Homo sapiens: one gene and its partners. The protein of the gene in region 3 purifies or fractionates together with the protein of the main gene of each other region. This does not show direct contact. Each region holds a gene or a part of one and is shown on either strand. Other genes may lie near its edges. The genes, in order: CRKL, ACAD11 and ASAP3.

Evidence for each region.
Region 1: the proteins of ASAP3 (region 3) and CRKL purify together in Homo sapiens (affinity purification with mass spectrometry; one large-scale study listed by BioGRID and IntAct). This does not show direct contact.
Region 2: the proteins of ASAP3 (region 3) and ACAD11 purify together in Homo sapiens (affinity purification with mass spectrometry; 2 studies listed by BioGRID and IntAct, with this or other methods). This does not show direct contact.

What each region holds. Positions count from the first base shown.
Region 1 is NC_000022.11:20,923,817-20,927,467, forward strand, and holds part of CRKL (crk-like protein), read left to right. Parts: intron 1-3,651. UniProt on the Homo sapiens protein: May mediate the transduction of intracellular signals.
Region 2 is NC_000003.12:132,572,790-132,576,440, reverse strand, and holds part of ACAD11 (acyl-CoA dehydrogenase family member 11), read left to right. Parts: intron 1-514; coding exon 515-669; intron 670-3,651. UniProt on the Homo sapiens protein: Acyl-CoA dehydrogenase, that exhibits maximal activity towards saturated C22-CoA.
Region 3 is NC_000001.11:23,435,608-23,439,258, forward strand, and holds part of ASAP3 (arf-GAP with SH3 domain, ANK repeat and PH domain-containing protein 3), read right to left. Parts: intron 3,624-3,651; coding exon 3,554-3,623; intron 3,228-3,553; coding exon 3,140-3,227; intron 1,866-3,139; coding exon 1,817-1,865; intron 1,714-1,816; coding exon 1,523-1,713; intron 1,438-1,522; coding exon 1,304-1,437; intron 1,048-1,303; coding exon 953-1,047; intron 422-952; coding exon 244-421; intron 1-243. UniProt on the Homo sapiens protein: Promotes cell proliferation.

The DNA of each region.
Region 1 (3,651 bases), on a different chromosome or scaffold from region 3:
ATCTGCTCGCCTCGGCCTCCCAAAGTGCTGGGATTACAGGCGTAAGTCACCGCGCCTGGCTACTAAAAAAAAAAAAAATGTAAAGGTTGGCTGTGCTCGGTGGCTCGTGCCTGTAATCCCAGCACTTCGGGAGGTTAAGGCAGGAGGATCGCTAGATCCCAGGAGTTTGAGACCAGCCCTGGCAAGATAGTGAGACCCCATTCCCACAAAAAATTAAAAAATTAGCTGAGCATGGTGTCATGCGCCTTTAAGTCCCAGCTACTTGGGAGGCTGAAGTGGAAAGATTGCTTGAGCATGGGAGGTCGAGGCTACAGTGAGCTATGATCATGCCACTGCACTTCAGCCTGGGCAACAGAGCCAGACCTTGTCTCAAAAAATGAATGAATGAATGAATGTAAGTTGTATATATTTAATATATTTAATCTCCATGCATGGTGAAACAGCTGTGGGAGAACTGAGAAAGGGTGCTTAGTCTAACCTGAGAGCCCAGAAGAGGAGCCTCACACACCTGTGAAGTAGAAGCCAATCCCTGAAGGGACAGGAGGAAACAAGAAGCATGGTTGTGCCTCCTCTTTACATCCCCTGTTCTAATTATTTAAGAACTCAAATCTAGACTTCCATAATTTGGAATGGGGAAAGGATTGCCAGTAATTTTAATCAGCATAGAATTCAACTCTGTGAATAAACCCCTTTGCGTTTCTCCTGACCAGTAGTTAAAATCATGTGAATTTGATTCAGAGAAAAATACAAGAACATGGCCAGGTGCAGTGGCTCACGCCTGTAATCCCAGCACTTTGGGAGGCCAAGGTGGGTGGATTGCCTGAGTGCAGGAGTTTGAGACCAGCCTGGGCAACACGGTGAAACCCTGTCTCTACTAAAATACAAAAAATTAGCTGGGCATGGCGGCGTGTGCCTAAGAGGCTAAAGGCAGGAGAATCACTTGAACCTGGGGGGTGGAAGTTAAAGTGAGTCGAGGTCGTGCAGCTGGACTCCATCCTGGGCGACAGAGTGAGACTCTCTCCAAAAAAACAAAAAACAAGAACACTGTCATGCTGAGAATGGAATCTTGTCCAATTAAGAGTTGTGTTCCCAGCCGGATGTGGTGGCTCACGCCTGTAATCCCAGCACTGTGGGAGGCTTAGGCGGGCGGATCATGAGGTCAGGAGATCAAGACCATCCTGGCCAACATAGTGAAACCCCGTCTCTACTAAAAATACAAAAACTAGCTGGGCGTGGTGGCATGCATCTGTAGTCCCAGCTACTCCGGAGGTTGAGACAGGAGAATCGCTTGAACCTGGGAGGCAGAGGTTGCACTGAGCCAAGATCACACCACTGCACTCCAGCCTGCCAACAGAGCGAGACTCCGTCTCAAAAAAAAAAAAAAAAAAAGAGTTGTGTTCCCATGGAAAGTACTAGTAGCCATTCGATTTGTGACTTTTAAAACTCAAATCCACAGAATTGTGACCTAAATTTTTCCTTTTGATCTGAATGATTAGACTAGATTTCTGAGGGTCTTTAAGATTAAAATATTTTAATTCTGGGCCGGGCGTGGTGGCTCACGACTGTAATCCCAGCACTTTGGGAGGTCTGGCAGGTCGGGAGTTCGAGACTGAACCTGGGAGGCAGAGATGACAGTGAGCCGAGATTGCGCCAGCGCCACTGCACTCCAGTCTGGTCAACAGAGCGAGACTTCGTCTCGGAAAACAAAAAACAAACAAACAAAAAACATTATTTTAATTCTTTCAGATAAGTAAAAGGGGGCACAGCCTATTAGTTGGGAGTTCAGATTAACTTGAGTTGAATCTGAGCTAAAATCATAACAAGTTGGGTGGGGCCACCAGGCACATAGCAACTCACCTGGAATGAACGTGACAAGAACAGTGGAAGAGGATGAGAAGAGGCTTTGAAGGTGCACACTCAACGGTATTCGAATTCTGTCACACCAGTTTTGTGACAGTATTAAACCAGAGTTAGGTAATTTGAATACCTGAGCTTTTGTGCTTTCAGAAACAAAAAAGGAGGGAAATAGGAAAGGGAAGTTCTTTGATATATAGAGGCCTACAATATACCAAAGCTCACTGCTAGACTCTTGGAATCTAATGGAAGTAAACCATGTTTTTGTTTTTGATTTTTGTCTTTGAGAAGCTTTGGTCTATTGAAAAAATTAGAATGCCATGACAGCTTAAAAGCAAAGGCAATCAACTGTACCTAAGAGGTGGGGAGAGGCTTGAAAGAGGAGATGCTCTTCAACTGATTCTTTAAGGATGAGAACAAGTATACGAGGTAGAAGAGGTGGTGGTAGAAGAGATGGTGGCAGTGCTTGCTGGTAAAGACACAGTTATAATTAATGTAGATGATGGGCAGGAACCTAGGAAGGAAAGATAAAGCCAACTTGTAAAGGGCCTCCTCAGCCTTGTAAATGAGCTTAACAATGGGAGCCATCTAAAGTTTTTAAAAAGAGAACTGTCAGATTTTAAAAGGAGAACTGATGAGTTTTACTTTTGAGAAACTGCTCTGGGTGGGGAAAGATCTGAAGGACTAATTCTCTGTTACTGGAGAGGGACCCTGAGAAGCTGAGCCAAGATCAAATGCCATAGGAATGTAAAGTGGCACATAGAAGGTGAGGGGAGAGGTATGATGACTTCAGAGAGGATTGAGTGGTGCCTTTGAGACAAGAGAAAGGGATTAGGGTGGGTGCGTGATTCTTTTCAACAGGAAGAATCTTTCTTTGAGGTACCTGCTGGAAGCCAGGTGGTATTTAGCAATCTGATGGGTTTGTTATTGAGAAGAGAGGTAAGGGCTGAATACATATAGATTTGGGAATCGCAGCTTAGATGGGATCACCCAGAATGAGGAGGCAGAACAGGAATAAGTAGAGAAAGAGAAGCTGCGGAAGGAGAGGCAGCCACAAGCATAGGAGGAGGAGCCATTAGTGATGGCCTGAAAGCCCAGGGACAGAAGGGAGGGGACCTGGGCATTAAATGCTGGTCAGTGATAAAGAATGGTGGTTACTGGCTGGACATGGTGGCTCACGCCTGTAATCCTAGCACCTTGGGAGGCGGAGGCAGGTGGATTGCCTGAGCTCATGCGTTCGAGACCAGCCTGGCCAACACAGTGAAACCCTGTCTCTACTAAAATATAAAAAATTAGCCAGGCATGGTGGCGTGCGCCTATAGTCCCAGCTACTCGGGAGGCTGAGGCAGGAGAATGGCTTGAACCTGGGAGGCAGAGATTGCAGTGAGCCAAGATCGCACCACTGCACTCCAGCTTGGGTGACAGAGCAAGACTCCGTCTCAAAAAAAAAAAAAAAAAAAAAAAAAGAATGGTGGTTAAAGCAGTTTCACTAGAGAAGTACTTAGCTCATCTTGGAATTGAATTTTTTTTTTTTTTTTTTGAGACAGTGTCGCTCTGTCGCCCAGGCTGAAGTGCAGTGGCATGATCTCGGTTCACTGCAGTCTCCACCTCCCGGGTTCAAGTGATTCTCCTGCCTCAGTCTCCTGAGTAGCTGCGATTACAGGCGCCCACCACCATGCCCGGCTAATTTTTGTATTTTTAGTAGAGATGGGGTTTCACCATATTGGACCAGGCTGGTCTCAAACTCCTGACCTCAGGTGATCCAATTGCCTCGGCCCCCTAATGTGCTGGGATTAC
Region 2 (3,651 bases), on a different chromosome or scaffold from region 3:
TGCTTATTAGAATACTATATCCCTTTCAAAGAACATCTAGAATACCACCTCTTCCAGGAATGTTTTTGTGTTCATCCCATCCATTCACCAGGCCCCTGATACCTGCCAGGCCCTGAGGTTATAATGATGAACAGAAAATCTCTTCTTCCTTTGCCTTTGTTTCTCTCTGTATCTCTTACCCTTACCCACTCTTCTGGATTCTAAACTCCTAGTACAGGGACTATGTGTTATTCCAACTTTGTATCTATTGCAGCATTAATAAAATAGCTTATGCATAGTACATACTTAAGAGACAGTTCTGAAATTTGAAATGTTTAATGGTGGTGGTTTTAAAAACATAGAAATCAAAATTCCCATGAATTCATAGTGAACCTTATTATAGAACTGACTTTTTTTCACTAGAAAGCCATTTTTATTAAGGGCAGCTCATCTCTTTCCCAGGATTTGTATAAATAACAAAAGGAATGGGCTAGGCCATTTTCACATTCCCCCTTTTTTTCCCCTTTCTTCCCAGGTGAAGGTAGGGGATTTGAAATTTCCCAAGGCCGCCTTGGACCTGGCAGAATCCACCACTGTATGAGAACAGTAGGTTTGGCGGAACGCGCTTTGCAGATCATGTGTGAGCGGGCAACACAAAGGATAGCTTTCAAGAAGAAGTTGTATGCACATGTGAGGACGATTACTTATTTGAATTTATTGTAGCCCGGTGCACTACACTAACATTGAACAAAAACATTACTTGTGAGAGACAGACTTTCTCTACATGAACCGGGTGATTCTTTTCAATAAGGCATATTTATGTCTGTATTTAAATATAGTCTAATGAGAGGTATTTATCTTTATGAAAAATTAAATAGTTCCTAAAATGCTTCAACACCTCTGCACACAAGAGTGTAGACAGTTCCTTCAACTTTCTCAGATTCTTGTTCTTTAGAGAACCTGGAACATTAGAGCTCCCTGTGGACATGAAGGAGCTGTCATAAGGAAGAAGGATTTGCCTTGTCCATTGGTTTCCTAGAAGGAATTAGGACACATAAGTGTAAAGTTACAGGAAAACAGCCCAAAACTCAGGGAAAGGAGAAACATGCTAATAAACCTAAAAGTGGAATCAGCTTCTTCAGGAGGACTTGAATTCTGTCACTGGAGAAACACAAGTAGAAATGGGACCAACATTTTGTGAGATATTCATGACTTTTTGAATTATCATCTGTAAATTATATACTACTGAGTCTGTTGTTACAAATCACTGTAAACATAGTTACATGTGGCCCATATAATAAAAATTAGGAAATATGGCCAGGCGCAGTGGCTCACACCTGTAATCCCAGCACTTTGGGAGACCGAGGCGGGTGGGTTGCCTGAGCTCAGGAGTTCAAGACCAGCCTGGGCAACATGGTGAAACCCCGTCTCTACTAAAATACAAAAAAAAACAAAAAAAATTAACCAGGCATGGCGATGTGCACCTGTAGTCCCAGCTACTGGGGAGGCTGAGGCAGGAGTATTGCTTGAACCCGGGAGACAGAGGTTGCGTTCAGCCAAGATCGTGCCACTGCACTCCAGCCTGGCGACAGAGCGAGACTCTGTCTCCAGAAAAAGAAAAAAAATTAGGAAATATGTATTGAGATGAAATAGAAGGTATTATTTCAGACTTCCTTAAAAAGTCTTCTACAGAGAAGTAGGATATCCACATCATCTCCCTTCTAAGTTTTAAGAAGGCAAGAAAAACTATTATTAAATGTTCACTCTTTATTATTGCTAACATGTTAGTGTTAGGTCAAATCTGTGGTGATGGAATTGTATTTGTGTTTGCTGCACATGTATATTTTAGTATGTCGGTCTCCTTATACATTTTTGACCATCTTATGAAATTTGCAGTATGTATTTTTTACCTTAAATTATTATAATCTATGTTTGCTTTTTGTAAAGTATTATTCAGCATTATATGATTTATTTGTATAGTTTTTTAACTGAAAAGCTACAGCCCGCTTTATGACACTACACCTGGGAATAATTTGTCAGGAGCCCTTTTAGTATACAGCGAAGGCAAGTTTTTAGTATACAGCAAAGTTCAGCTGTTGGCTGGGCACTGTGGGAGGAGGTGAGAAAGTGTGACCCTCTGGGGCCCTGGATACAGCCTCTGATGCTGTTGAAGAAGGATGAAGAGGTGCTCAGGGCACCAACCATTACTTCTTACCCTTTTGTCAAGCTTGCATGCAAACTCTGGAGCAGGGTGAAGGGAGGACACAGTAAAGTCGACAAACAAGCATCGCGAATGCACAAAAGCCCTCTGTGCAAGTGCTGCTTTCCTGAGTGGTGTTTTAATACTGCATTAGTAAAAAATTTCCCTTCCACCTTTTAAAGTTAATGTGTCATGCAGAGCAAGCCTGGCTTTTTAACAAATATGCCTGTTTTCACTGGAAACTTTTCACATCTGGCACAAATAACGTGATCTGGCAGAAACAAAAAGATGTGTGAGCATGTCATAAGCAAAAATCTGGGCCAGCTTTTTTATTTTAATTTGTGAAAGGAACATTTCATTTCTTTGAATTTGGAGGCTCCTTCCAGCTGCCTTCTAATTTACTCCAGGCTGTAACGCAAAAAATTCTCCATCCCAGTTCTGTCTTAGGAAATATATTTGGCAGTTCCCTAGAGCACCTAGTTTCTACCCATTTAATGCTTTTCAGCAAATCTAGGGTCTATAGAGACCCAACTGAGAATACCTCCTTTATTCTAAAGCTGAGAAGTAAATGTCTTCTAAGTCTGTTCATGAAGTTATAAAGTTGTAATTATCCTGTTTTACAGCCATCAAAAAATATTTATTCACCACCAGCAACTTGTTTGAAATTAATTCAGAGCCATGTTTCAACCTCTAGGGCAGTGCCATCCAAAAGAAATATACTATGAACCTTAAATGTTATTTTAAATGTTCTAATAGCAACATTTTTAAAAAGTGAAAAGAAAAAGATGGAATTAATTTTAATAATATATTTTATTTAACCCAATATATCAAAAATACTATTTCAACATGAAATCAATATAAAAATTATTAATGAGATACTTTATATTTTAATATTTATTCTTCAATATGGGGTGCATATTTTATACTTATAGTACATCTCAGTTCAGACTAGGTATGTTTCAAATGCTCATTAGCCACATATGGTTAGTAGCTATCATGTTGAACATCACCGCTTTAGGGAAACTCTAATCAAATATCCCCTGTTGAAGGGCAAACATGACCAAGCATAAAAATGGCCAAGGTGTGCATGTTCTCACTCATAAGTGGGGAGATGAACAATAAGAACACATGGACATGGGGAGGGGAACAACACACACCGGGGCCAGTTGGAGGGTGGGGGCAAGGAGAGGGAGAGCATTAGGACAAATAGCTAATGCATGCAGGGCTTACAACCTAGATGACGTGTAGATAAGTGTAGCAAACCACCATGGCACCTGTATACCTATGTAACAAACCTACACATTTTGCACTTGTATCCCGGAACTTAAAATAATAAAGAAGAAAAGAAAGGAAAATAAAAGGACAATTAAACGTCAAAAAAATGGCTAAGATGTAAGGAAGGTGCGCAGTTTCAATCCCCTGCAGATGGCTAGCAAGTTATCCCAGCACCATTTATTGAATAAGGGAGTCCT
Region 3 (3,651 bases):
ATGAGGAAATGAGACTCAGAGAAGTAACCTGCCCTAGATCACACAGCTAGGAAAAAACAGAGCCAGGATTCCCACCCAGGTCTGCCTGACTGAAGCTGTGCTCTTTCCCACTTACCACTCTGATGGGTGAGATCTGAGCAGATGTCAGAGGTGGGGTGGAGGGGAGTAACAGCTGGTCCTGGAGAAGAACTGGGGAATATGTTAGACAGGTGGGTTATAAGTGGCCCTTGGAGGGGTTCTCACCTGTGCATCAGGCCCTGGCAGCGGCTGTCCAAAGTCCTGCCCATTGGCAAAGGCCTCCAGTACCGACAGGAGGTCCCTGTTGCAAATGGCTGTCCAGAGTCGCTGAGGCTCAGGTGTGCACCGGCGTGCAAACCTATGCTCCACATACTTGGCCATAATGTAGTCCCTGCGGGTGCCCCTACCAAAAACAACCACAGGATCTCAGAGCATGGACCGTGTCTGCCCAGCTGATCCCTGGGGCCCTCCCACAGGAGATACAGCTCTCTTTTTCTCCAGAACCATGTCCTGAAGACGTCTAGATCTGAGGCTCCCCTCTCCCCAGGCTTTTTTTTTAGACAGTCTCACTCTATTGCCCAGGAGGGAGTGCAGTGGCGCAATCTCGTTTCACTACAACCTCTGCTTCCAGGGTTCAAGCAATTCTAGTGCCTCAACCTCCTGAGTAGCTGGAATTACAGGCGTGTGCCACCACGCCCAGCTAATTCTTGTATTTTGAGTACAGGCGGGGTTTTGCCATCTTAGCCGGGCTGGTCTCAAATTCCTGACCTCAAGTGATCCGCCCGCCTTGGCCTCCCAAAGTGCTGGGATTACAGGCGTGAGCCACTGCGCCCAGCCTCCCCAGACTTCTGATCCAAGACTTTTCTACGACCCTGGACACTGCGGAGGCAGAATCCCCTAGGCAGGGTGCCCCTCTCTCTGAGAATCCCCTTACATGTCACTCTCAGCTGAGGGTTTAGGGCCGCCGTGTGAGGGTAGCTGGGCCTCCATGACCTCATTGAAGCTCGTGTTTCCCATGTTCAAGGCCAGCTGGAGTCGTAGGAAAATAGACGTGGGGCGGAGTAAGACCGGGCGGTTAAGCCTGCATAGGGTGGAGCTCCAAGCCCCCAGAGTCCCGCCCCTCGGCCGCCCTCCCGGTTCAGGCCCCGCCCCTGACCACCCGCTACCTGGCTTGTCCCAGCCCACCTCGGCCAGGTCCCACCCACAACCTGCAAGCCCCGCCCCCGGATGAAACTACACCCCTAACTCCGCTTCTGGCCCCTTCCAGGCCCCGCCCCGCCCTCACCAACAACTCGGAGGGGCCCAGCAGGTCCAAGGTGAGTGACTGCATGCGCGAAAAGCGCACGCCCAGTTCGCGGTGGACGCCCGAGCACTGGATGCAGGTGAGCACGCCCAGGTTGGTGCTGAGCCACGTGGGGTCTGCAGAGGAAAGCAGCTGGAGCCTGGAGGTGCAGCCCCTCCCCTCCACTTAAGCCTCCCTCCTGCCCCGGCCCCGGGGACCGACCTGCAGCCCCGCAGTCGCAGCACTGGCTATTCCCAGGCCTGCTCTTCACCTCCGCGATGAGCAGCTTTGTGAGGTCGTGCGGCTCCCCATCATGGCCGGCGGACCCCCAGGACCCCGGGCCAGCGCTGGGCTCCCCGAGGAAGGCGCTGCTCAGGGCTTCGTCCTTGCTGTTCTGCAACACTGACACCCACCTGCGGAGATTGAACGGGGTGGGATGGGGATGTCAAGTGGGAAGAGATAGGGCCGCCGGCCCCCACCCACAAGGCTGGCCGGGCTGGCCGAGGGGGCACTCACGCCTCACACTCGTGCTCGTCCTCTGCCTGAAAGTGGTACGTCCGGTTGTCTGTCGGGAGAGAAGGGGGCTTCTGACCCACAGAAATGCTGCTGGCCTTCCCGGAGCCCAGGGAGCCCCCACCAAAGCCGCTGGGGCCACATGGAGATGTGTCCCTGACAAGTCGGACTCTCAAGCTAGGAGTGGGAAGGGAGTGGAATGACAGTGGCCAGCACCAGGGGCAGTTTCTCAGAACTGGCCTCCGAAGTAGGATCCCAACAAAGCTCCCTCTGCGTGAAGCCCTGGTTCCAGGCTCAGACGAGGTCTCAAAGGGCTTGGAACCCCAGAGAACCCAGCTCTGAGGCAGGGCATCCTCTGAACCAACTGTCACCACCCCACTGGGCCCTTCCTGGTCTCCTCCTGGGCGACCAGGCCTCCTGTCTGGTCTCCCTGCTTCCCATTTCCCCTTTCCCCTAGCCTGTACCAGCTCCCAACTGTTGTGCCCAAGGCTCTGCTCTAATTACACCACTGCCCTGCCCCAAGATCTCCCATGGCTCTCTATTGCCAGGAAATAAGGTCCAAACTTTTAAGAGGGATTTCCAGGCCTCATCTCTCACTCTGCTACATGAACCCTCCACTCTGGCCAAACCGGCCAGACCCACTCTCCTGCTTCCATGCCTTTCATCATGCTAATCCTGTCTCCTCAAAAGCCCCCACCCCACAAACTCTTCATTCTACATGTCCTTCAAGGCTAAACTCAAATACTGTCTCCTCCAGGAGCCTTTCCTGATTCCCCACAGCAGTGCAGGCCTTCCTGCTCCCTAATCTTCTATGGGGCTATATCTGCACCCATCTTCTGGACAGCCCCCTCATCTTACAGTCCTGGGTACCCACCCCACACCCCTGCCAGAGAGTTTCCTGAGGACAAGATCTAGGTCTTTCTCAGCCTGTGTCTGCTCTCACACAAAGCCTGCACCAAAGGCTCTGAAGAACGAAAAGTAGAAAATGTAAAGAAACAATAATTTCATCTCCTTCAAGTCTGGGTATTTGGGAAAAAAAGGTAAAATTTTAAAAAAAGAAATAATTTCAAAACCCAGATGACCCAAATCCACTCAAATATGCTCTGTATAAATAGCCACATTTATTATGTAAAGTGGGTGCATTTTGACATTTAATGTGATGTGGGTATCCTAGACCTAAGGATTCTTATGTCTGCAGTAGCAGCAATTCGACACCATGTGTGGAACTGGACACAGACCCCTCACTGAAGCCCCCCGGGAGCTGACAGGTGTCTTAGAGAAGCCCTGAGCAGCTGTGGGTGGGGGAGAGGCACAGGGACCACTCACGGGTCACCAGGTCGAAGCACTTTTTCTCCTCAGGGTTTGGCCTCACTTGGCACGTCAGCAGGGTCAGCTTCACCGGGGGCCGGTTTATCTGTGGGAATTTAGGGGCGGAGGATGTATGCATTACCTCTGGCCCTCCACATTCTTTAGGCCTCCATTTCCCACTCTGTTAAATGGGCATAATCATCCTGTTCCATTTGTGTTTCTCCTCACCCAGCAGCACCTCAAGGATGTGAAGTGTAGACTAAGACTAGATTGGGGCCTTCAGGTCCCATCTGTCCTCCCAAACGGGTCTCCAGCTCCCTGGACCTAGGTTTGGGGGCCAGTCTTAGAGGGAGGGCTTGACATTATTTGCTCAGAACACCAGAAGAAGAGGGTCCATCGTGCCCTGAGACTCCCACCACCTCTAGGCCTCACCGTGCTGTGTGAGATGGTCAGGCAGCCATACTTGACTCCACACTTCCTTTTCTGCCAGACTCTTCGAATTCTAAAGCCCAGAGGGATAGAAGGACAGT